7 linked regions of the Homo sapiens genome follow. The protein of the gene in region 6 interacts with the protein of the main gene of each other region in a pairwise test. Each region holds a gene or a part of one and is shown on either strand. Other genes may lie near its edges.

Region 1 (3,500 bases), on a different chromosome or scaffold from region 6:
ACCTCCGAAGCTCAGGTGATCCTCCCACCCAAGTAGCAGGGACCACCACGCCTGGTTAATTTTTCTATTTTTCGTAGGGACGAACTCTTGGGGTCACGTGATCTGCCTTGACCTCCCAAAGTGCTGGAATCACAGGTGTGAGCTATCAAGCTCAGCTTCATCTCTCCTTTTAATATTAAAAAGGCTCACAAATTTTTACAAGGCTAAGGCTTCATCTTCCGTTTCTTTGTAGTCTGTTCTTTACCATTCAAGTGTTCCTGAGACTAACATTAAGTCTGTCTTTGGTACTCTCCACCCTCAGATACCACTTCAACTCAACTCTCCCCATTCAAGGTACTGACTGTTCACTCAGTTACTATTACAAGAGAAAACTATCACTGGTTGCCTTTCCAAGAATGGTTCAGCTCATTCCGAATTATTACAAATATATTAGAATGAAATATATTAAAATATATGCCAATTCACAAATTAACATAGTGAAGTGTGACAACCTCAAATCATCCTCAAAGGCAACTTCAGATTTTCTTTATAAGTAAGGATTAGCTGTTCTACACGTAAAATATCCTGGGTTAACGACTGCTTTCTGAATAATTGATCAATTGCTTAAACAACCTTTACACACACCAAAAAAAATAAAAGAGCAAAGGGAAACAACCCTGGTTTTCAAATACAATTTGTAACACGTATGCCCAGCTACCTACCCTGCCACCCACTGCCTACCAAACAAGAATTTATCTTCTCCTTGTTCTAAAAAGCCCATGTCAAAAAGCCAAAAACTCTCTAAAATTCAGTTTACCTTCCCAGTCATGCTACAGCACTCGAGTCAACAGTAACTCCATTTTCATATATACTGCTTTTATTAAAATGAGCTTCATTTTAATATACAAATGCCCCAAAATATAAATTCCAAATTCCACCTCAAACCATTAACTAGATGAGTGTGGGTATTTTTTTAGACAGAGTCTTGCCCCATTGCCCAGGCTGGAGTGCAATCACGGCTCACTGTAACCTCCACCTCCCGGGTTCAAGCAATTCTCCTGCCTCAGCCTCCTGAGCGGCTGGGATTACCGGTACCCAGAACCACAGCCTGCTAATTTTATTTTTTAATAGAGATGGCTTTTCACGGTGTTAGCCAGGATGGTCTCCATCTCCTGACCTCATGGCCTGCCCAACTCAAGCCTCCCAAAGTGCTGGAATTACAGGCATGAGCCACCGAACCTGGCCAAATGTGGATATCTTAAACTTAATCTTATTTATCTTCCCTTTTTATACAAAAGCAGCTCATCAAATGACCAACTGAAAACTGACTCAGGCCAGGTCCAATGGCTGACGCCTGTAATCCCAGCACTTTGGGAGGCCAAAGCGGGAGGATCACCTGAGGTCAAGAGTTGAAGACCAGCCTGGCCACCATGGTGAAACCTCACCTCTACTAAAAAATACAAAAATTAGCCAGGTGTGGTGGCACATGCCTGTAGTACCAGCTACTCGGGAGGCTGAAACAGGACAATCGCTTGAACCCGGGAGGCTGAGGTTACAATTAGCCAAGACTGCACTACTGCACACAATCCTGGACAACAGAGCTAGACTCTGTCTCAAAAAAAAAAAAAGGACTGAATATATTGTCTATTTGCTGAACACCATTACATGAATAACCTTCAGGTTTTGGTACATTAACCTCATTTACAATTCTGACTTTGAAACCATATAAAGTGTTTCAAAACTAAAGAGAATTAAATTTCTGAAAAAGCAATCCAGTAAGATGTAAAAACAATGAAATAGACCCAAATTATGTATCTGGTTGGTTACATAACATTATCAAAGAATTGTTTCACATAACTCTAACCTACCATGCTTTGAGTCAATATACATAGTAGAATGTATACAAAGAATAAACTAAATCACAAATATAAATTTAAAAATAATCATCTTAACTTTGTAAAAACAAAGGTATGATAATTTTGAAACTGAGGCACAAGGTACACATAAAATGAGAAGTTAAAACAGACATCTAGTACAACTAATAAAATAAACATGTGGACACTGGATTCTGGCTTGAATAAACCAAATCATAGGTAGTAAGTACTCTGAGGTGTCATTACATTTTAAAATACAAGAAAATCTAACACTGAGCCAAACTGCAGTCGGCCCAACGGATGGAGTGAAATCCCAATGGGGAGACAAGCAATCAACACTAGAGGGCTCCTCCAGTCTGCTGTGGGCAGGACACAACCATTTAGGCAACGTTTTTACATTGTGAAGTGTCATTCCCAGCTCCCCCTACTCACGATTGTAGTAGAGTTGTCCTAGCTCTACTACACAAAATGGTACAATGAAGAATATCCTTTACTTAGCCAATTATAACTATAAGCCTAATGTATTTTTATTAGGCTAAACAGTCGCAATATCCAGAATATCTCATGCTGTCAGTTTTACAGACATAAAGACAAAAAAAAAACGTGAATAGAAAAACTCAGGCCTGAATTACATCATCAATGAAAAAATTCACTTACCTAAAACCTGGCCAGCAATCATTCTGCCATCCTCTCCTGCTACAGCAGCCCGGGCATTTCTCTCATTAACATACTGAACGAAGGCAAAGCCCTTATGAACAGAGCAGCCCACAATTTTGCCATACTTCGAAAAGATTGCCTCCACATCAGATTTCTTGACCACAAGAGTGTTGAGATTCCCAATGAATACACGGGAGTTCATGGAGCGAGGATCTGTCTTGTTGGTAACGTTGCTGGCCATCGTGTTTGATGGTAAGGTTTCTCACAAAGCCGAAAACTGTAAAGCAAAAAAAAGTATACAGGTGAACAGATGCTAAAAACAATATTCCTTGATAAAACATTCTCCACTCTCACTCTGAATCACTGTTAACTGCCCAGAGTATTAGGCAACTTAAAGGGACTCACAGCATTAAGTATGTATTTGCTAATAATTTCAGAGACTCCAGCCTCTGAATATACTCTAGAAAGTCAACTTCTTCCTCTTCCATTCTATTTCAGCAGCACTAAACTCTAAATTCTCAGGAAAAAAAAATTCTCCCTGGCAGATCATTGGCAATATAATTTCCTTGGACATAATTCCAAGTGGCCCTCCTCTAAGTACTCAAGCAAATTAGATTTGCCTAAATTCTCTGACACCAGTTTCTGCTGTTTTTCACATTACAGGTCATGCTAACTATTCCCTGCCATCAATAATCTTGATTCACGTTGCTTTTATTGAGTTTCACCGGTTCTGTATATATACACACAGCATAGCAAACGTCAAATTCTGTCCCAAGCCATTCATTAGCTAGATTAATATGGATAGCTTACACTTACCCATTAAGTATAATTTTCTTCAAAAGGCAATAAATAGAATCAATTCATTTACACTGGAAACACCTATTTCCAGATACTTCAATTAATCTGCAGTATGCTTTAGATACATAAGTATCAATACCATCTTTTTACAGACTGCAATGACTCGAAGGCTACTTTTTATATAACCTAAAA
Region 2 (3,500 bases), on a different chromosome or scaffold from region 6:
ATTTTTGTATTTTTTTGTGGAGATGGGGTTTTCACCATGTTTCCTGGGCTGGTCTCGAAATCCTGAGCTCAACCCATCTGCCTGCCTTGCCCCCGCAAAGTACTGGGATTACAGATGTATGCTACCACGCCAGTCAGTTGTCTTATTTTAAGAAGCTGCCACAGTCACCCCAACCTTCAGCAATCACCACCCAGATTAGTCAACGGCCATCAACATCAAGGCAAGACCCTTCACCAGCAAAAAGATTATGATTTACTGAAGGCTCAGATGATCAGAAGCACTTGTTAGTAATAAAGTATTTTTTGGTCGGCCACGGTGGCTCACACCTGTAATCCCAGCACTTTGGGAGGCCAAGGCAGGTGGATCACCTGGGGTCAAGAGTTTGAGACCAGCCTGGCCAACATGGCAAAACCCTGTCTCTACGAAAAATACAGAAAGTAGCCGAGCGTGGTGGTGGGCATCTGTAATCCCGCTACTCGGGAGGCTGAGGCAGGAGAATCGCTTGAACCTGAGAGGCGGAGGTTGCAGTGAGCCGAGATCACACCACTGCACTCCAGCCTGGCTGACAGAGCAAGACTCTGTCTCTAAATAAATAAAATAAAATAAAATAAAACAAAATACTTAGACAAGCCATGACTCAACTTCATGTGTATATAGTAGAAAACAGAAGTACCTACTCTAACAAGTAGGTCATTGGGAGAATTAACAGGGTCATTGGGAGAATTAAACAAGACAATGAATAGAAGGTACTCTGCGTAATGTTTTTAAAAAAGTAAGAAATACTGAAAAACGGCCAGGCGCGGTGGCTCACGCCTGTAATCCCAGCACTTTGGGAGGCCAAGGCAGGCGGATCATGAGGTCACGTGATTGAGACCATCGTGGCCAACATGGTGAAACCCCGTCTCTACTAAAAATATAAAAATTAGCCAGGTGTTGTGGCAGGCGCATGTAATCCCAGCTATTCGGAAGGCCGAGGCAGGAGAATTGCTTGAACCCGGGAGGGAGAGGTTGCAGTGAGCCGAGGATTGTGCCATCGCACTCCAGTCTGGGAGACAGAGTGAGACTACATCTCATAAAAATAAATTAATTAATTAAATAAAAAGAAATACTGAAAAATGAGCCACAAATGTGAACAGTGATAATCACGGATGGTGGAGTTGTAGGTAATGTTTTTCTTTGTACTTTTCTGTATTTTCTCAATTCTTCACAATAGGAATGCTTTACATTTAAAAGAAGAAAATAATATTTTTTAATATAGAAAAAGTGCATTTTTTCCCCTAACACATATTTCTGATTGAAACCCTCTAAGCCTTACTGGATAGTTTAAAAAATAACTCTGTGGGCTCCTTCCAGTCCTTCATTTCTAAGCAAATCTCATATTCTTACTCATTTCCTAACCTGAGATCCATGTTGATCACTGCCATTATTCACCATGGACACTGTGCCTTTCTTCTTGTGCTTAATTCTTGGGACTTTTTCTGCCTCAAAAAAGCTTGCTTGATCACCATACAGTTGGCTGAAAAAACATATAAGGTTATAAATGTAAGTACTCTCAAAATGAAATACAGAAGTACTAGTAACATACAGGGTTATCAATTATTTCTTTACAGAAATGCCAACAGAATTCAAAATATTACTTTTTTTTTTTTAGGGAACTTGGGGGAAAAAATCTAAATTTAAACCATATTTTAAAATGCAGATTGAAGCATGAGCAATTATATTTTTCCTCATTTAAGAATAAAAGAATTTGTTCTGCCCTTCCAGAGGTTAAAAGTAAATAAATAAATAAATAAATAAATAAATAAATAAATAAAACAACTTACCCAAAGATAGACTCTCCTCCACGGCCAGTCCCTGTAGGATCGCCAGTTTGTATGATAAAATCCCTCTGTAATATGTAGGATTCTTTGTTAATTCACAGAGTTTGTTAGATAGTTCCAATAACAAAGGAAATGACTAATATCTACCAACTCACCTGTACATTGTGAATAAGGCAATAATTGTAATATTTTATTTTGCACAGTTTCAAGAAATTCAAGCAGGCTGAAAGAAAGTAAATACCAAATTTATCACAGTAATCCACAAACACATTTTTAAATAAGTAAAGCCACAGTAAAATGTAATTTCTAAATTACTATTAAAAGAAAAAAAAAGTCAAATGTCCAAAGCTATAAAAAAGGGCAATAGGCCGGGCGCTGGCTCACACCTGTAATCGCAGCGCTTTGGGAGGCGGAGGTGAGTGGATCACTTGAAGTCAGGAGTTTGAGACCAGCCTGGCCAATATGGTGAAACCCTGTCTCAACTAAAAATACCAAAAAAAATTAGCCAGGCATGGTGGCGGGCACCTGTAATCCCAGCTACTAGGGAGGCTGAGGCAGGAGAATCACTTGAACCCAGGAGGTGGAGGTTGCAGTGAACCAAGATCGCACCACTGCACTCCAGTCTGGGCAATAGAGCAAGACTCTATCTCAAAATAAAATAAAATAAAATAAAATAAAAGGGCAATAAGTCTAGAAAAAAAACATTTTAAATTACCTTTTTTTTTCCTTTAATAGGAGTTTTGGGGCATCTGGGCTAATACAGAAAACTGACACTTATAAGCAATCATTTACTGATGGATTGATTTTATTACGAGAAAAAAGAACACTTAAAGAGCATATTGTAGTAGAAAAGGATCTAGCAGAATATATAAAAATGGATACGGATTATATCAATTAGGAAAAAGTCAAACACCCGGGGTCATTTTTTAAATAATAGTTAAACAGCCCTTTATAAAAATCCATACACTTATGAACAACCTTTCTCATACAAGTTAATCTGCTTATCCAATAAACATTTACTGAGTACCTTCTAGATGCCTGACACTGCCATCACAAATGCCATTAAACTGTGGTCCCTGCTCCCAAAAAGTTCACAGTCTAGTCGTGGAAAGACACATTAACAAGCTCTTAAGGCACTAAGTTAGAAACCAAACAGACAGTAAGATATATGAGGCAATCCCTGCCCTCAAAAAGCTTACATTAAATTAGGGTCCTTACATCTGAACACAAGTAGTTACATACTGGGCATATCTAATTAATAACATGTGTGCCACTTATTTAAAATGGTAAAAAAAGTAGTTTTAAAAATTCCACAAGAGTTCAAAAGATTGTTTCTGGCTAGGGAAATTAGAAAACCTCAGGGAAGGTTAAGGCAAGCATTAAAAGAACTGGACTAGCAGAGAGTGAAGGGTGAGCATTTTAGGTCTGGAAGACTATGAAAAGGCCTGGAAGTGGAAATTTAAATGTTTTAGGGGAGGTCCAAAACACCAAAGTTCTGTAATAGTCTGGTATTACACAGTAATAGAGCATGAAAAGACTGGAGAGATAAGATGGGGCTGAGCTGTTGAAGAGTGCTGAATATCAGTCTTGCAGTTGTTTTTCTTGAATATATTTCTGGGCTTCATGTTTAACAGATAGGGGTGGTCCTTTTACTAGAAACAAAAATAATGAATTTAGGCA
Region 3 (3,159 bases), on a different chromosome or scaffold from region 6:
CCTGTTACCTCGGATTCTCGAATTCTCTTTTTCTGGGGTTGGTAGAAAGAGGCCATTTGTCTCTTGATGGCGCTTCTTCTAGCTTCTGTCTCTGATTTGCTCTCTGGTCTTGGATGATCATGAACTCCCTTGGCCTGCGATAACGAGAAAATGAATCATACATTTGTGCCTCTAAAGGAAGCTGACAATGTTGCCCAAAAATTGATCATGCCTTTCCCAACATCTCAAGAGTTTAGTTTTGTTTCTTTCAAAATGACAGAAAAAAAAATTCTTGAACAAATAAAACAGGCTCAAGAATTGACATCTGAAAAGATCACCTGCAATCCCTTCACTCTATTAAAAGAACTATAACTTGGTTTACCATCTGTGTACCTTAAAGAGCACAAAGTAGTGAGTGAATTTCTAGGCTCCCGCTAGGTCCCTGGGGAGCTCCAGCACCTATTTCTGGCCACTGGGGCTGTATTTTGTTTGGCCCAGGGTTCCCAAGGCACACGACAGGTGGTTTGGCCTTTGTGGTCTGATGAAAAGTATCCATCACAAATTGTGTTCTCACCTGACCTACCTGAAAAAAGATCGCGTTGCCATCAAGCCGCCAAAAGTTGGTTACGGGGTATCCGCTGTGCCCTCGACAAGGAATCAACTCCAAAGCAGAATGACAGTTAGGGCATGCCTTCTCTGCAAAGCCCAGAAGGGAGAAATATTAACCCTGACCCCAGACCCTTCTGAAGGAAGAAGGGGAAAATTAGCTGGGAACAAAGAACTCATGCTCGGGCGCGGTGGCTCACGCCTGTAATCCCAGCACTTTGGGAGGCCGAGGCGGGTGGATCACTTGAGGTCAGGAGTTCAAGACCAGCCTGACCAACATGGAGAAACCTTGTCTCTACTAAAAATACAAAATTAGCCGGGTGTGGTGGCTCACGCCTCTAATCCCAGCACTTTGGGAGGCCGAGACAGGCAGATCACCTGATGTCGGGAGTTCAAGACCAGCCTGACCAACATGGAGAAACCCTGTCTCTACTAAAAATGCAAAATTAGCCGGGCGTGGTGGCGCATGCCTGTAATCCCAGCTACTTGGGAGGCTGAGGCAGGAGGATCGCTTGAACCCGGGAGGCGGAGGTTGCAGTGAGCTGAGATTGCACCATTGCAGTCCAGCCTGAGTGACAGAGTGAGGCTCCATCTCAAACAAACAAACAAAAACAACAACAACAAAAAACTCATGACTCCAAGGTCACCCTCTCCCTGGCCCCATGTCCTCACTCTGCTGTTTCAGCCGTGCCTTGTCGCAGATGGCCGGCCTCAGCTGCAGGCGGGAACCGTCGGGCAGGGTGCAGGCCTGTGTACACACCACCACACCCAGGCACGACTTCTTGAGGATGTGGCCATTGTGGTTGTTGGTGTTGCGCATGGCCCAGCCGCTCAGGTGACGCTGTGCCTTCTTCTCATCGCTGCTGTAGATGAAGCGCACATAGCCGTCAGGCCACTCTCGGAATTGGTCAAAGAGGGCCAGCTCCTGGAAGAGTGCAGAAGGAAGGGTGGTCAGTCTATCCAGTCCAAACTGCACACATCATGCTCTAAAATTTCTCTGAGCACATTAGGATACAAACCAGTTCTTTTTAAATCCAGTAACGTCAAATTCCAAAATGCCACTCTTTCTATGTAAGACTTCCTGACAACCAGGTAATAATTAATGTTTATATAGTGCTTATCTGTTAAATGCTATACATGTATTAGTTCATCTAGACTTCAAATTATAGGCAAACAATTATTTCCAATTTGCCGATGAGGACATGGAGGCCAGAGAGGTTAATCGACTCGCCCAAGGTCACATCACACAGCTAGCAAGATCTGGATCCAGGATTTGCACCCTGGCAGTCCCATTCCAGAGCCTGTACTTCTTACCACTATGTTATATCACTTCTTGGTGTGTTTAAATGTTGAAAACATTTTTAAGTTAGGTATCAAAGTACCAGGGGAAAAAGTGATTGGAATGTTCTATCACTGAAATGCAATTTAACTGGTAAATATCTTTAAGTCAGTGCATTTTCTTCAAAAGCACTTGGCTCTGTATGCCAAACCTGTCAGTCACATTAGCAGTGGCACCCAGAGTAATGTCAGAGAGGAAAGAACAGCTTCCCTCCCTACTCTCAACTTGGCTCTCCAAGTTTAAAAGGGTACTGCAATGAGGGACTTAAGCCATGAGCTTTGGGGTGTGGGTGAGCTTGTCTGGCACGGGACTGCTCCCCAGAGCAATATGGGACTGTCATTCTCCTCAACAAAGAGCCACATGGCTGCAATAATAAGTTGTATCTAAAATACTGAGCATTGCCTTAGTATTCATATTTGGTAGTCTTTGTCAATTTAATGCATTATTTACACTGCAATAAATGTCACTTTTGCATATAAGTTTCATTGAAAAATCACCCTTTACTGAGCACTTCCTTTTTTCTTTTTTTTGAGATGGAATCTCACTCTGTCACCCAGGCTGGAGTGTAGTAGCATGATCTCAGCTCACTGCAACCTCCGCCTCCCAGGTTCAAGTGATTCTCCTGCCTCAGCCTCCTGACTACCTGGGACTATAGGTGCATGCCACCACGCCTGGCTATTGTTTGTATTTTTAGTAGAGATGGGGTTTCACCATGTTGGCCAGGATGGTCTTGATCTTCCTGACCTCATGATCCACCCACCTTGGCCTCCCAAAGTGCTGGGATTACAGGCATAAGCCACCATGCCCGGCCACTGAGCACTTTCTTTTATGTAATGTTTAGGGCTGCTTTCACACTACAGTGCAGAATTGAATATTTGGAACAGAAACAGTATGACCTGCAAAGCCATATTATGCAATATATATAATTCTCACAACATCTTTGCAAGATGGACATCTTTACTCTTGTTTACTAAATAAGGAAGTGGAGGTTCAATAGATAACCTTTCACAGTGGCATAGCTGGAATATAAACAGAAGATGGGTAGCAGCCAGACCCAGTAGCTTTGCTGGTGTAATAAAGGCTCAGAAGAGTGTATAATAGCAGTAAGCCATTTGCATCTCCTCCCCACTCTTGCCACTCAGGAAAATTAGATCAAACATTTGCAAAGCTGAAGTATTCACAGTTGGAAAATTCAGACTTGTATACATCATTAATACTGCACATTCTAACAGTAA
Region 4 (3,500 bases), on a different chromosome or scaffold from region 6:
TGGATGACTATGAATCTGAGGAAAAAATAAAAGTGGTACTATTTTCTTCAAGCCCTTTTTGTTTCGAATCCTTCTCTTTTTTTTTTTTTCCTGAGACAGGGTCGTTCTGTTGCCCAGGCTGGAGTGCAGAGGCACAATCTTGGCTCACTGCAACCTCCACCTTTCAGGTTCCAGCAAATCTTGTGCCTCAGTCTCCTGAGTAACTGGGTTTACAGGTGCCCACCACAATGCCCAGCTAATTTTTGTATTTTTAGTAGAGATGAGGTTTCACCATGTTGGTCAGGCTGGGCTTGAACTTCTGGCCTCAGGTGATCCGCCTGCCTCAGCCTCCCAAAGTGCTGGGATTACAGGCATAAGCCATTGCGCCTGGCCTCTCTTCTGGCTACTTTTTATTTGAGGCGGATTCTCACTCTGTTGCCCAGACTGGAGTGCAATGGTGCGATCTCGGCTGACTGCAACCTTCACCTCCCAGTTCCAGCAATTCTCCTACCTCAGCCTCCTGGGTAGCTGGGACTACAGGTGCGCGCCACCATGCCTGGCTAATTTTTTAATTTTTTTTTAAGTAGAGACAGGGTCTCAGCATGCTGGCTAAGCTGGTCTCAAACTCCTGACCTCAAATAATCTACCCGCCTCAGCCTCCCAAAGTAATGGGATTACAGGCATGAGCCGTTATGCCTCGTGGCTAGTTCTTTTTAATAGAATCCCATAGTGATTCATGCATGAGTTGAACTAAATGCCTGAATCACAGAACATATAACAATAATGAAATTTAAAGAAAAGTAGTGGAAAGAAAAAAAAAACTGACAGGTAAGAGAAGGGTACCTGAAGAAATTTTGTGACAATAACTGTCTATACCCAGAATTAGAAATGCCAGCTTCAAATATAGTTATAATAAATTTGGCTTCAGCACTACATAGGCTTTTCTTTTTCCTTCCTAAGAATTTTTTTTTTCTGATTAAACTCCAGATTAAACCATCTCTATAACCCATCATACAAAGTTCTTTGTTAATGGCCAAAATAATCTCTTAGGAGCAGTGTGAGGGCCCACAGATATTATATAAATAATGCTGGACTCGAGAGTCTCTAAAATCTTATTTCTATCCCTTATGTTACACGCTCTGACAACTTTCAATATATGACCACTTAGCATTAATCATAGCATTATTTGATCAGGGTAATACAACTAAGGAATCCTTATGATAACTATATTATTCATATTATAATAGTTTTTACTTTAAAACATTAACTTCTTGAAGAATAGCTTTTAATATTAAAAATTAACAATCTTTAAATTTAACTTAACCCAAAGAGGAGATGAGGAAGGAATGAGAATTTTTAAGCTGTCAACAATGATTCCATAAACCTAAAAGAAATTTTAGGAAGAAAAGCTCAAGAACTAAACTGTTCCTTTGTCATTGAATTATTAAGGCAAAAGAAGTGAAGAAAATTGAGTTAAGTAACATCCACAATATGGCATTTTCCCGTGAGTACTCTACTTCACAATCTGATTCTTTAAATACTACAAAAACAGCTGCCTCATTACTTAATAATGGTTATAAATTGCTTAACATTCCACATGTAAACTTTTGCTTTAGCATTTAAGTTTAGATTTTTAAAAACTCAAAAAACTGCAACATCCTTGCAATAAACATTTAACCTATCGTCACATTTAAAAGAAAAAGCATTAAAGTTTATGTCCTTGAATGGTGTTTTCCTTAACAAAATGAACTTCTCTCAATAGTTTTATATAAAATAACAGAATTCAAGTTACTCTACCTCAAATATATAAAAAGCATATTAAATCTAATCTTATCAAAATATTCATTTAGCAGCAGCAGCAGCAGAAATAAGCACTTTTTTTTTTTGAGATGCAGTCTCCCTCTGTCGCCCAGGCTGGAGTGCAGTGGTGCGATCTCAGCTCACTGCAACCTCCGTCTCATGGATTCAAGGGATTCTCCTGCCTCAGCCTCCTGAGTAGCTGGGATTATAGGCGCACGCCACCACACCCAGCTAATTTTTGTATTTTTAGTAGAGATGGAGTTTCACCACGTTGGTCAGGCTGGTCTTGAACTCCTGACCTCGTGATCCACCTGCTTCAGCCTCCCAAAGTGCTGGGATTACAGGCATCAGCCACCCCGCCCAGGCAGATATAAGCACTTTTAAATGACCAAACTTTTGGTCCCATTCTCGGTATCGGGAAAAAGAAAAGAAAAAAAATGACCAAACTTGTTTCTAACCAATAAAGAATATATCTTTTTTTTTTTTTTTTTTTTGAGACGGAGTCTTGCTCTGTTGCCCAGGCTGGAGTGCAATGGCACAATCTCGGCTCACTGCAAGCTCCGCCTCCCGGGTTCACACCATTCTCCTGCCTCAGCCTCCCAAGTAGCTGGGACTACAGGCGCCCACCATCACGCCTGGCTAATTTTTTTGTATTTTTAGTAGAGACGGGGTTTCATCGTGTTAGCCAGGACGGTCTCGATCTCCTGACCTCGTGATCTGCCCGCCTCAGCCTCCCAAAGTGCTGGGATTACAGGTGTGAGCCACCGCACTCGGCCATAAGAATATATCTTAATGTATCTTTTTTTTTTTCTTTTTGGGACAGAGTCTCGCTGTCGCCCAGGCTGGAGTGCAGCAGCGCGATCTGGGCTCACTGAAGGCTCCGCCTCCCGGGGTTCACGCCATTCTCCTGCCTCAGCCTCCCGAGTAGCTGGGACCACAGGCGCCCACCACCTCGCCCGGCTAATTAGTGTATCTTAATATATCTTAATGTATATAAGTATACATTATCCAATTAAAAAAATTAATCTACCTATTAAATATTGCTTCTATCTAATTTAGCTCAGGAAGTGCCTTGTTTATAAAAATCAATGAAAAAATTTAAAACTTTGCTGACAGACCTCTAGAATAATGTCACTGCCCTACTATCTTCCAAAAATACTTCAAAACAACCTAAAAAAAAATTCAAGAATAACTATAAGGTCTGACTTCAAGAAGAAGCTAGTATATTATTATATAAAAACATCTGCTATTAGGACAAGCATCTGATTTTTTAAAGATAACTAAAGGTCTCCTCTACATTTAATGATTGCAAAAAGGACTAAATGAAACAGCATCCATGAAAACTGCCAGACCAAGCCAAGCAGATAGGAAGCACTCGATAAACAGCATAAAAAATTAAATATCTAGAAATGGCTCGTATGAACTATAAAACAAAAAATAAAATTTTATCACTTAAGAATTGGTACAAGGTTGGGCACAATGGCTCATGCCTAGAATCCCAAGACTTTGGGACACCAAGGCAAGAGGATTGTTTTAGGCCAGGGGTTTGAGACCAGCCTCGGTAACTTGGCAAGATGCCATCTCTCCAATAAAGAAAGAAAAAAATGGGCTGGGTGCGGTGCGGTGGCTCACGCCTGTAATCTCAGCACTTTGGGAGGCTGAGGTGGGCAGATCACAAGGTCAGGAGTTCAAGACAAGCCTGGCCAATATGGTGAAACCCC
Region 5 (3,500 bases), on a different chromosome or scaffold from region 6:
ATACCTGGTTTGAGGTCATAGTGTATGATGGGAGGTTTTATTTCATTTAAGTACTTTAAAGCATTCACAATCTGCATGATAATGGACCGGGCCTCTTTCTCCGACATTAATTTGTGCTGTTTCAGGTAGAAGTCCAGATCATTTCCCTCACAGTATTCTAATACTGTACAAAACCTAAAGACAAATAAACCAATATTTAACCATGGAATAAGAGCAAGCAGATTAACACTACCTAAATTAGTCCCATGTGAAAACTTCAGGTCATCAGCTTCTCACTCCTTTCTTCTTTGTTCCTTAAAATACTCTTCAATTGTTTATTCAGTATTAGCTGAGGGGTTTCTGGTAAGAAACTGCTTATTCTCTTGAAGAGTTTCCACACCCTCAATGTTGGAATCTGTTGTGCTCAAGTTCACCCATGGCAGACCTCTTCTTGAGTCTAGACTATAAGAATACTGATAAGAACTATAATGTATTTAAGCTAGGTATCTTCTTGGAAGGGGCTCCTTTACACACCCATGCCACACATCCACGTCTAAACAACCAGAATGTGATCAAGTACACAATTCTCTCTTTTTTTTTTTGAGACTCCGTCTCACTCTGCTGCCTAGGCTGGAGTGCAGTGGCGCAATTTTGGCTAGGTACACAATTCGCACTGCAAACATTTTATATAACCCTGAGTGCTGGCAATGAGTAAGAATCTAGAGTTTGCCCACGTCCCAAAAACTGACTGCATACTACGTCTTCTGACAGCTTGGCACAATACTGCACTACAATTTCTCTTAAACACAAGGTGTAAAAGAGCTTGTAAAGTATAGTATCTATGGTTCTAACAAAAGTATGTGGGTTCTCTTTCCTTCCCTTATGTCAATATGTCATACAGACCCATACATAAAACCATATGCCATTGGTGGCATCACAGGTCACGTGTCTATCTTCCAAGGCATTATACTCTGAAGTAAGGTGTCCTGAACTGTTTGAATATTCCTGAGGGATGAATACGTTTTGAAGTTTTCTAAGTTGTGACAATGTGGGTGTATCAGTCAGTTTAGCCTGGAAAAAAAAACCACCTGAACATTTAAAACAGAGAGACTTTAATTCAGGGAACTGATCATACAGATGATGGAAGAGCTGAGAAGACAAACTGGTCAGTGAGGCACCCTAGAGATCATCTACAGCAGGAAGCCATTAGCACCCTCAGGCAAGCAGGCCAGAAGGGAGGAGATGGTGAAACCAGAACCCAGGGTCATCAGGGGAAACTAGAATTGCGGGGAGGGAGAGGAGGTGGAGACCCCCTCCCATTTCTGCCTTCCCATTGGCTGAAACCAACAGAACACCAATGGACACATGGGCCTGATAAACACAGCCTACACGGGCTAACCCCCCAAAGATACAGAGCAGCGAAAGGGCGAGGAACAGAACTGAGAGCAAACAGACTCAGGTCTAGCGCTATGGGCCACTGAGCAATTTGAGGCCTTCATAAAGCACTGCAATTGAACATGGACACACATGGTCCTGTGGACACCACAAACTGAACAATATCTTATGTATCTTAAGAAACATGGCAGGGCATGCTAACACCCTATTTGAAAACAAATGTCTGCTGTAATCCCAGCAATTTGGGAGGCAGAGATGGGTGGATCACTTGAGGCCAGGAGTTTGAGACCAGCCTGGCCAACATAGTGAAACTCTGTCTCTACTAAAAATACAAAAAATTGGCCAGGTATGGTGGCGCATGCCTGTAATCCCAGCTACTTGGGAGGCTGAGGCAGGAGAATTGCTTGAACCCATGAGGTGGAGGTTGCAGTGAGCCAAGATCATGCCACTGCACTACTGCCTGGGCAACAGAGCAAGACTCCATCTCAAATAAAATAAAATTAAAAAAAGAAATGTCTGAAATTTATAGATTCCTCTGATCTGAGATTCTGAAATCTGAAATATAGACTCATGCTCAATGGAATGATTCTTTCACCCAAATGCAAGTTGAAAATAAAGCCTCACTTTCAGCCAGGCGCGGTGGCTCAAGCCTGTAATCCCAGGACTTTGGGAGGCCCAGGCGGGCGGATCACAAGGTCAAGAGTTCAAGACCAGCCTGCCCAGCACGGTGAAACCCTGTCTCTACTAAAAATACAAAAATTAGCCAGGCATGGTGGCGTGCATCTGTAATCCTAGCTACATGGGAGGCTGAGGTAGGAGAATCGCTTGAACCTGGGAGGTGGAGGTTGCAGTGAGCCAAGATCGCACCACTGAACTCCAGCCTGGGCAACAGAGTGAGACTCCATCTCAGGAAAAAAAAAAGGAAAACAACCAAAACAAAAGAAAGAAAAGAAAATAAAGCCTCACTTTTAATACCCAAACAATTCTCAGAAGATGTTCTAAAAATCATGGTCTGACTTATTTTTGGTGAAAATTCATCATACATACAATAGGAAGAACAAAGTAATCAACTCAAGAATAGTATAGAACCAACTCAATTTCTCACATTAGTTAAAAGTGTGTATACAATTCAAAACAGCAGATAATTTGAGCCTGATATTTAACTTTGAAATAGTTCTTGAACTTAATAGTTCAGAGAGGGGGGTCTACCTAGTATTCAAGAAATTTGCTCAAGGCAAAACAGTAATGTCATGCCCCGCCCCTTGTTTCCCAATCCTGCCTTCTAACTAGATCTTTTTAAAAAAATTCCACTCCACGTGAAACACACATGGCTAAGCTCAGTGCCAGGGCTACCCAAATGAGAAGAAATCCCTGAGAGAATGGCCCAGGTCATGTTTCCAAAGGGAATTATAGTCCTCTTTGGGGTTATTTCTAAATGTAAGGCAGCTGTCTGCACAGCCATATCTGAGACTGTTGGCTAGAACAGACCAAAACTCCTAGAATTACCCTGGGAGGCTGAGGGAACCTGAAGTCTAGACCTAGGGTATATTCTGATTCAGTTCAGACTTCTACAGAGAAACATTTCCAAATGCTGAGATATATCCAGCTAAACTGCTGGATAAACCCAGAGGCACGGGAGGTTACCTATACCAAGTAACAAAATATAGCAATGCCCACAATTAATAACTATCTCAGACAAGTTATTTAACTTCTCTGGTCCTCAAAATCCACCTATAAAATGAAAAGGCTGGACTCTGAGATCCCTTCCTATTCTAACATCCTATAAGCCTATGAGCCTGTATTTCAACATGTAGCACTGAGCCTTGTCTTCATTAGTGCCACATTTCTTATCTCAGTCTAGGATAAAATCACACGGCCAGTACTTTTTAAAAAGGTCTGTCAATGTTCATAAGAGTCTCTGGGGTGAGCAGAAACTCTCTTGAACAGTCTACACTCACTAGTGCACGTCAGTGGCATGCTGGCACCAACTCATGCCAGTTTCCAAGAGCTGACTTAAATTTTCAAGAATTTTGTGAGCTGGTTATCAAACCGTTATAAGCAAAATGTGGTATATCCACACAATGGAATATTATTTTGCCATAAAAAGGAATGAAGTACTGACACAG
Region 6 (2,898 bases):
GACCTCCATCCTGAGAATTAACCATGACTTCCTAACAGACCCAAAAGCCCAGACTGACTTATAACTAGAAAACTGTTGCTACCCTCGAACTGTTCGGAATGGCAGCACTGAGGAGGTAAACCTTTCTCCTAACAAAACGCCTCATGAGCTCTCATGGTACTATGCCATGGCAGCAAACTTGGGATGAATTAAAAGAAGTGTGTCGGGAACAAGCAGGTCAGATGATAGTACAGTATACTATCATTTCTCTTCTCTGCAAACTGGAGAAATGTTTAATTTCCAAAATCCATATGCTCAGAGAGGGAAGCATATCAGAGAAGGTCCAGAGGAAGACACCCACCATTTGTAAAATGATGATTTTGGTCAAGAGAATGAATAAATGGATAGACAATCGGGCTCACCCACTCCAAAATTCAAAGAGTAGTTTTCTCTGAAGAGTAAAGTTATTGATCATTTTGATTTTCTTTATGCTTAATGAATGCATGTACTTTTTGAATTATACAAATTATGTAATTTTTAAAAGTCAGTGTTTGAAATAGATTGATTCCCCATACCGCTCTGTATGTGGAAACAGCCCTAATATAATTGCAGCATCTACTTGTTCGTCTTATTATTTTCTCACATACACATTTTGCTATCTTCACAGAAACCTGGATGTTGTTATAATACATGAAACTGAACGAGACACTCTGTGGCCTTATTAAAGTCAGATGATGAATGCTAACATCAAGTTCAAAGAGGCAAACAGGCCTTGAGGGCCTGCCAGAATTTCAGCTTGCATTTGTTTCTAATTCCTGCAATGAGTTCCTCTAGGCAACCTGACTTCTGGAAAATTCCAACGCAGTTATAGCAACACCAACTAATGGGCTGTTAATCCCTTAATTTACATCAATTGCACTATGGCCAACAATATCCAGATGCAATAAAAATAAACATGTGAATAATTCCTCTGAAGTTGCTTATCTAGCTGCTCCTATATTAGTCTGAAGACTGTGAAACATTTATTTTGCTGTTATTTGGATTTGAAATCCAGCAAAAAATGTTCAATGGAGAATAAACAATCAGTGTAGCCCCAGAACTGTTTCCAGCAGAGGCTCATGCTGGCCAATATCGTACCATCTAATATCTCTAATTGTTGCACAAACAGGAGTTCTAGGAAAACCACTGGGAAAGGCCTACCAGAAGACAGACATTTTTCCTATCAAGAATCCATCCAGCAACAAAGGTCTAGTACAAACCATCTGCCTTATCCAACTTACATCATAAAGGGTGAACCTAGTGCAGGACCTCTAAATGTAGGGGCTAATAGATATTTGGGACAGAACTAAGAGGAGAGGCAGGCTGTCATACCAAGTGAATAGCATCAAGCTTCCCAGGCAGCTAGGAGGGCCACAAACTCGTCACACCATTCACAGCAAAGACACACTAAATTTCCAGCAAATACCTGCTATGCCTTTTCTTATTGTAGATACAGACAGAAAACTAGCATTCTCATTATATTATGTATATCTCACCATGTAAATATGAATCCCATTTCTGATCCTTTTTTCTTTCTCACTAGTTTATCACATATACCCAAAGTAATGCCCCAAATGCGTGCACAGATTCTATATTTAGCATACAAACACATTAATATAAACCCAAATTTTAAACTACTAATCTGCTATCTGATAATGTGCCAGCATTATTTCCACTTTCTGGTGCAAGGCTCCCTGGTACCCAAAACATGCCCCACCACCACCCAACATTATCAAGGTAACAGTATAATAAAAGGCAGATCAACCTGACAAAACTGGACAGATTTTTATTACTCATTTTTTTAGGGCATGAATTAATGAGTCAATCACTTAAAAGTGATGGGATTGACTGTCTCCGACTTGACTGGTCAAGCCAATCACTGTAGTGCGAAAAGCTCTCAAGGGTGCAGACACAGCCAATGAGGTCCGCAGGCCCTGAGCCACTCCTCACTTCTCTGGGGCCTGGGTTATGCAGGCCACCACCAGCCGCACTTACTTGCATAGGCAGGTTATTTGCCATGGTGAAGCTGGGCATAGGCGGCAGAGCGCTGTAGGTGTTTGTGAGGGCTGTGTCTGTTCGGCCCAACATGGAGCCAGATGTGAAGGAGGAAACTGAGGGCAAGAGAAATGACAGTAGTCAGAGTGAGAGTCAGAGCCCGGAGCAAACAGGTTTAAAGACATTGATTCGTAGTATTAGTATTTCAAATTACCCGGTGTGGTGGGTTGTGGAATTGGTTGGTAGACACTGGTGCTGAAACTACTGCTGATAGGAATATGACTAGGTGTGTTGCTGGCCTGTCTTCTCTGATTCCTCAGTTTTTCTTCTCTTCTCCATTTGGCCCTTCGATTAGAAAACCATACCTGGAAATCAGGTGGGACAGGTTAGCACTGTGTCTACGTCGAGCCCAGCCCCACCTTGGCACCTCCACTGCTGCCCTCCCCACGCCCATGGCAGCAGAGCATTTAGCAGACTGAACCTTTTTATTATATTAGTCCTATAAATAAATAGTACTCTGTACAAGCACCTCTGTCTCTAGGAAAGACAAATGGTATGAATCACAAAGTGTGAAACTGCACAGTCTCTCGGTACCTGTATTCTTGCTTCAGGTAGATCTATTTTGGCTGCTAGTCTTTCTCGGGCAAACACATCTGGATAATGGGTTCTCTCAAACTCTGAAAGAGTAAGTTGATTTTCCATATTGTGCCAGAACTACACAAAATATGTTGACCAAACTGTGCATCAAACTGGTTCCCACCTCCCCACTCCCATTACCTCCAACCAATTCCCTTTAAAATGCTTCTAGTGTTGACTGTACTTGGAAGAACTTTCCCACCAGAACCAAGTTAAATTTTCTTTGGAATGGCATTCAGTGACCTTTCT
Region 7 (3,500 bases), on a different chromosome or scaffold from region 6:
TTCCAAAAGTCTGCCATCTGAATCAGACCACCGTTGATTTTGGTGAAGGAGGTGAGGGGGCTTGGGAGCAGAAGCAGGTCCCACTGTGCCTGTAACCTCCTGTCTTGCTAATGTTCATGGCCCCTGCTGTGAGCCACCACCAGCCCAGACCCCTCTGGAGGGAGAAAATGAGACACAGAATATAGGAGCAGGTAATTATTCACGGAGATCATTTAGTTCAATTCCATTTTACAGATGAAAAATAATGAAAGAAGAATCTTCTGATCTTATGTTAATTATCTTATTGGCAATGCAGGAAAGAGGCAAAAGCTACCTTTGTTCCTTGTTTCTTTGAAAAGTTAGATCCAAGAAGTACAGAAGGCAGTTATTTTATGGGACTCACTGAACTGAGAACCAAAAAACAATGATTTGGGGTGAGTGTGGGAAGAAAAGTCAATTTTAACTCCCCAGTAATGGTATCAGAATCTTAACCAGGTATTTCACAGACTCACGTTCATGGTTTAAGAAGTAAACATGCAGTGCTAATCTTGCTCTCAATCTTTCTTAAAAAAAAAAAGCATGTTTTTTCAAACTAATCAAAACTCCAAATTTTCAATTTATACTTAGAATCCCAAAATGAAACACAGAAGAAAAAATGTAAGATTTCTTCTTACATTTCTTCTCAATCCAGGCTTTTAGATCAAAATCCTATACTTGCTCACTCACATGCCCTACGATGCATTTGGATGATCCCTAAGGCTCTTTCTAGCTCTAGGATTCTAGATTGCAAATTAAAACCAAAACCAATTATCTAGGAGGCCAAACAGCCACATGCTGTCGCACCCTAGGCCCCGGCAGCAGCCCCTGCTGGCCGCTCACACTCCACTGAGAAAACACTGGCAACTTAACAGTAGTTAAGCAGTTTCTTCCTGCTCCCTTCTGTCCTCTCCTTTCTCCACTCCTCTCTCCTTCACTTCAGCCTTTCCTTGTCTCCTAAAACCCTGATCTAAATTCATGGGCCTTAAAAAAGAAGGGACTCTGGCTCTCAGGGTTAGTTATATTTGTATATTCAGAGTTCAGATGAAAGGCTGGCGCCAAAATAAAGAGAAGCCACAAGCAATTCTTGCTTTCCGTTTCTGTTCCGGAGGGTATCTGCATTCACACTTGTAAAGGAAGCATTTCCTTGGGAGTGAAAGTGAAGTGCTCCCCACAAAGTTCATTGCCATGTTCATTACAAAGTAAAATAAGGTACTTCATCTACCACAGGCATTGATTGCTTTCCACTGAATGCCCATTCAAATGCATGAACAACCTCCAGAACCCTGACTTATTTTCAAAATATACATTGAAATCTCCTGAAATGCACCAGCTTTTCTAGCACTTCCTATAAGAATTCTTAAAATGTGTTATTTGATTAGTATTGTATGTGGCAAATCAAAAGGTGCTCTTTTTACAAATAATATTACTACTGCTCACCAAAACTCATGAAGCTGAAACACTTCTCTCTTCCCAGTATAATTGGGGATGGGAGGTAGAGATCCCCAAAGGAATGCTTTCTTATTTCTATCCCACTTAACCCATTATAATCCAGTACTTTTTTTTTTTTTTACCATTTCCAGTAAGAAACTTACAGCATAAAACACACTTTCGGTCGGGCGTGGTGGTTCATGCCTGTAATCCTAGCACTTTGGGAGGCCAAGGTGAATGGATCACCTGAGGTCAGGAGTTCGAGACAAGACTGGCCAAAATGGCGAAACTCCGTCTCTACTAAAAATACCAAAAAATTAGCCGGGCATAGTGGCGCACACCTATAGTCCCAGCTACTCAGGAGGCTGAGGTAGGAGAACTGCTTGAACCTAGGAGGCGGAGGTTGCAGTGAGCCGAGATCGTGCCATTGTACTCCAGCCTGGGCAACAAGAGCAAAACTCCAACTCAAAAAAATATATATATACACTTTTGTTATTACCTATTATAATACAGTTTACCATTTACCATTATAAGAAACTTACAACATAAAATGTGCTCTCCTGGTAATGGAAAAATAAACAAAACTGATCTGAAGAGCCTGAATTAATCCAAAGGAAGAAACTATGCAGGCAGGTAGATGGTAGGGTGAATCTGAAATTTGGAGGCCTAAATTTGAAGACCAGTGAAGCTATCTGAGGGACTCCCAGGTACATGTTGTTGTTACTAAGCAACCCACCAGTCCTCCTGGGCCAAAGCAAAAATTCCTATCCAGCCTGTTGCTGCTCATTAAGGAATTTTCCCTGGACAAGTTTGCCAAACCAATCACTACCCTTTATCAGGTTAGGCCTAGTTTTTTTTGTTGTTGTTTTTTGTTTGTTTGTTTTTATTTCTTGTTTGGTTGGTTGGTTGTTTTTTTCTGAGACAGAGTCTCACTCTGGAGTGAGGCTGGAGTGCAGTGGTGCGATCTTGGTTCACTGCAACCTCCACCTCCTGTGTTCAAGCGATTCTCCTGCCTCAGCCTCCTGAGTAGCTGGGAGTACAGGCACGTGCCACCATGCCTGGCTAATTTTTGTGTTATTACTAAAGACGGGGTTTCACCATATTGGCCAGACTGATATCGAACTCCTTACCTCATGATCTGCCTGCCTCGGCTTCCCAAAGTGCTGGGATTACAGGCATGAGCCACCGCGCCTGGCCAGGCCTAGTTTTTATAATTGAACAAGAGTCATTGAAAACCTCTTTAAAAGGAAGAGAGTATCAGTACCCTAGTGAATGCCAGGGATCATGAGTGAGAACTCTAACTTAGGGTAAGGCTTTTCTTATACTAAAAATGACTTCAAATTTTTCCAAGGTTAAACCTAGTTGACATCATCTGCTGCAATGATCTTACCTCTTGGCCCAGGTAACAAGGATGGGCTGCTGATGCTGTAAATACTGAAAGAATGCAGCAAAGTTCACTAACTATAGCAGCACCTAAAATCAGACTCACCGTTATCTCTATGCGCAGAAGCTGTGCAGTTCTCACCAAGTTAATATGGGAGGAAAAAAAAACCAGGAAAGTGACATTAGGGAGACAAACCAAGGAAGGAAAGAAGGGAAGGAGGGAACAAGAAGAAAATGTTAGTTTAAATAAGGGAGGAAGTAAGGAAGGGGAAAAATACTATGTAACCATAGTTAATTTTTTAACCAGAAACGTATGTCTATAGTTAGACCATAAGCCATAAAGAGGAACTGAGGCAGTTGCCTGAATTATCTAAAACTTTTTAAAAAGTAAATTTAACAACCTAACATCCAAAAAATCTGATTTGAATCTTCTGTACATTTGAAACAAACACTTCTTCAGGTGATTGGGTACTGTTAATGTTGTTTAAATGCTTCTGTGTATGTTTGATTTATCCAAGTACTTTTTTTTTTTTTTTTGAGACGGAGTCTTGCTGTCTCCCAGGCTGGAGCGCAGTGGCACAATCTCAGCTCACTGCAAGCTCTGCCTCCCGGGTTCACGCCATTCTCCCACCTCAGCCTCCCAAGTAGCTGGGACTACAGGTGCCCGCCAC

The links.
Region 1: the proteins of PAX6 (region 6) and HNRNPC interact in binary tests that used the Homo sapiens proteins (3 or more experiments, as listed by UniProt).
Region 2: the proteins of PAX6 (region 6) and PPIL4 interact in binary tests that used the Homo sapiens proteins (3 or more experiments, as listed by UniProt).
Region 3: the proteins of PAX6 (region 6) and GCM2 interact in binary tests that used the Homo sapiens proteins (3 or more experiments, as listed by UniProt).
Region 4: the proteins of PAX6 (region 6) and UBE2K interact in binary tests that used the Homo sapiens proteins (3 or more experiments, as listed by UniProt).
Region 5: the proteins of PAX6 (region 6) and TLK2 interact in binary tests that used the Homo sapiens proteins (3 or more experiments, as listed by UniProt).
Region 7: the proteins of PAX6 (region 6) and GRHL2 interact in binary tests that used the Homo sapiens proteins (3 or more experiments, as listed by UniProt).

What each region holds. Positions count from the first base shown.
Region 1 is NC_000014.9:21,231,443-21,234,942, forward strand, and holds part of HNRNPC (heterogeneous nuclear ribonucleoproteins C1/C2), read right to left. Parts: intron 2,788-3,500; 5' UTR 2,752-2,787; coding exon 2,511-2,751; intron 1-2,510. UniProt on the Homo sapiens protein: Binds pre-mRNA and nucleates the assembly of 40S hnRNP particles. Interacts with poly-U tracts in the 3'-UTR or 5'-UTR of mRNA and modulates the stability and the level of translation of bound mRNA molecules. Single HNRNPC tetramers bind 230-240 nucleotides.
Region 2 is NC_000006.12:149,539,544-149,543,043, forward strand, and holds part of PPIL4 (peptidyl-prolyl cis-trans isomerase-like 4), read right to left. Parts: intron 2,044-3,500; coding exon 1,976-2,043; intron 1,889-1,975; coding exon 1,824-1,888; intron 1,517-1,823; coding exon 1,399-1,516; intron 1-1,398. UniProt on the Homo sapiens protein: PPIases accelerate the folding of proteins. It catalyzes the cis-trans isomerization of proline imidic peptide bonds in oligopeptides.
Region 3 is NC_000006.12:10,875,883-10,879,041, forward strand, and holds part of GCM2 (chorion-specific transcription factor GCMb), read right to left. Parts: intron 1,511-3,159; coding exon 1,258-1,510; intron 676-1,257; coding exon 563-675; intron 135-562; coding exon 9-134; intron 1-8. UniProt on the Homo sapiens protein: Transcription factor that binds specific sequences on gene promoters and activate their transcription. Through the regulation of gene transcription, may play a role in parathyroid gland development.
Region 4 is NC_000004.12:39,739,636-39,743,135, reverse strand, and holds part of UBE2K (ubiquitin-conjugating enzyme E2 K), read right to left. Parts: intron 1-3,500. UniProt on the Homo sapiens protein: Accepts ubiquitin from the E1 complex and catalyzes its covalent attachment to other proteins. In vitro, in the presence or in the absence of BRCA1-BARD1 E3 ubiquitin-protein ligase complex, catalyzes the synthesis of 'Lys-48'-linked polyubiquitin chains.
Region 5 is NC_000017.11:62,597,325-62,600,824, reverse strand, and holds part of TLK2 (serine/threonine-protein kinase tousled-like 2), read right to left. Parts: intron 175-3,500; coding exon 5-174; intron 1-4. UniProt on the Homo sapiens protein: Serine/threonine-protein kinase involved in the process of chromatin assembly and probably also DNA replication, transcription, repair, and chromosome segregation. Phosphorylates the chromatin assembly factors ASF1A and ASF1B.
Region 6 is NC_000011.10:31,791,425-31,794,322, forward strand, and holds part of PAX6 (paired box protein Pax-6), read right to left. Parts: intron 2,691-2,898; coding exon 2,608-2,690; intron 2,379-2,607; coding exon 2,228-2,378; intron 2,130-2,227; coding exon 2,014-2,129; coding exon of another isoform or gene 1,840-2,013; exon of another isoform or gene 1,781-1,839; intron 1-1,780. UniProt on the Homo sapiens protein: Transcription factor with important functions in the development of the eye, nose, central nervous system and pancreas. Required for the differentiation of pancreatic islet alpha cells.
Region 7 is NC_000008.11:101,498,939-101,502,438, reverse strand, and holds part of GRHL2 (grainyhead-like protein 2 homolog), read right to left. Parts: intron 1-3,500. UniProt on the Homo sapiens protein: Transcription factor playing an important role in primary neurulation and in epithelial development. Binds directly to the consensus DNA sequence 5'-AACCGGTT-3' acting as an activator and repressor on distinct target genes.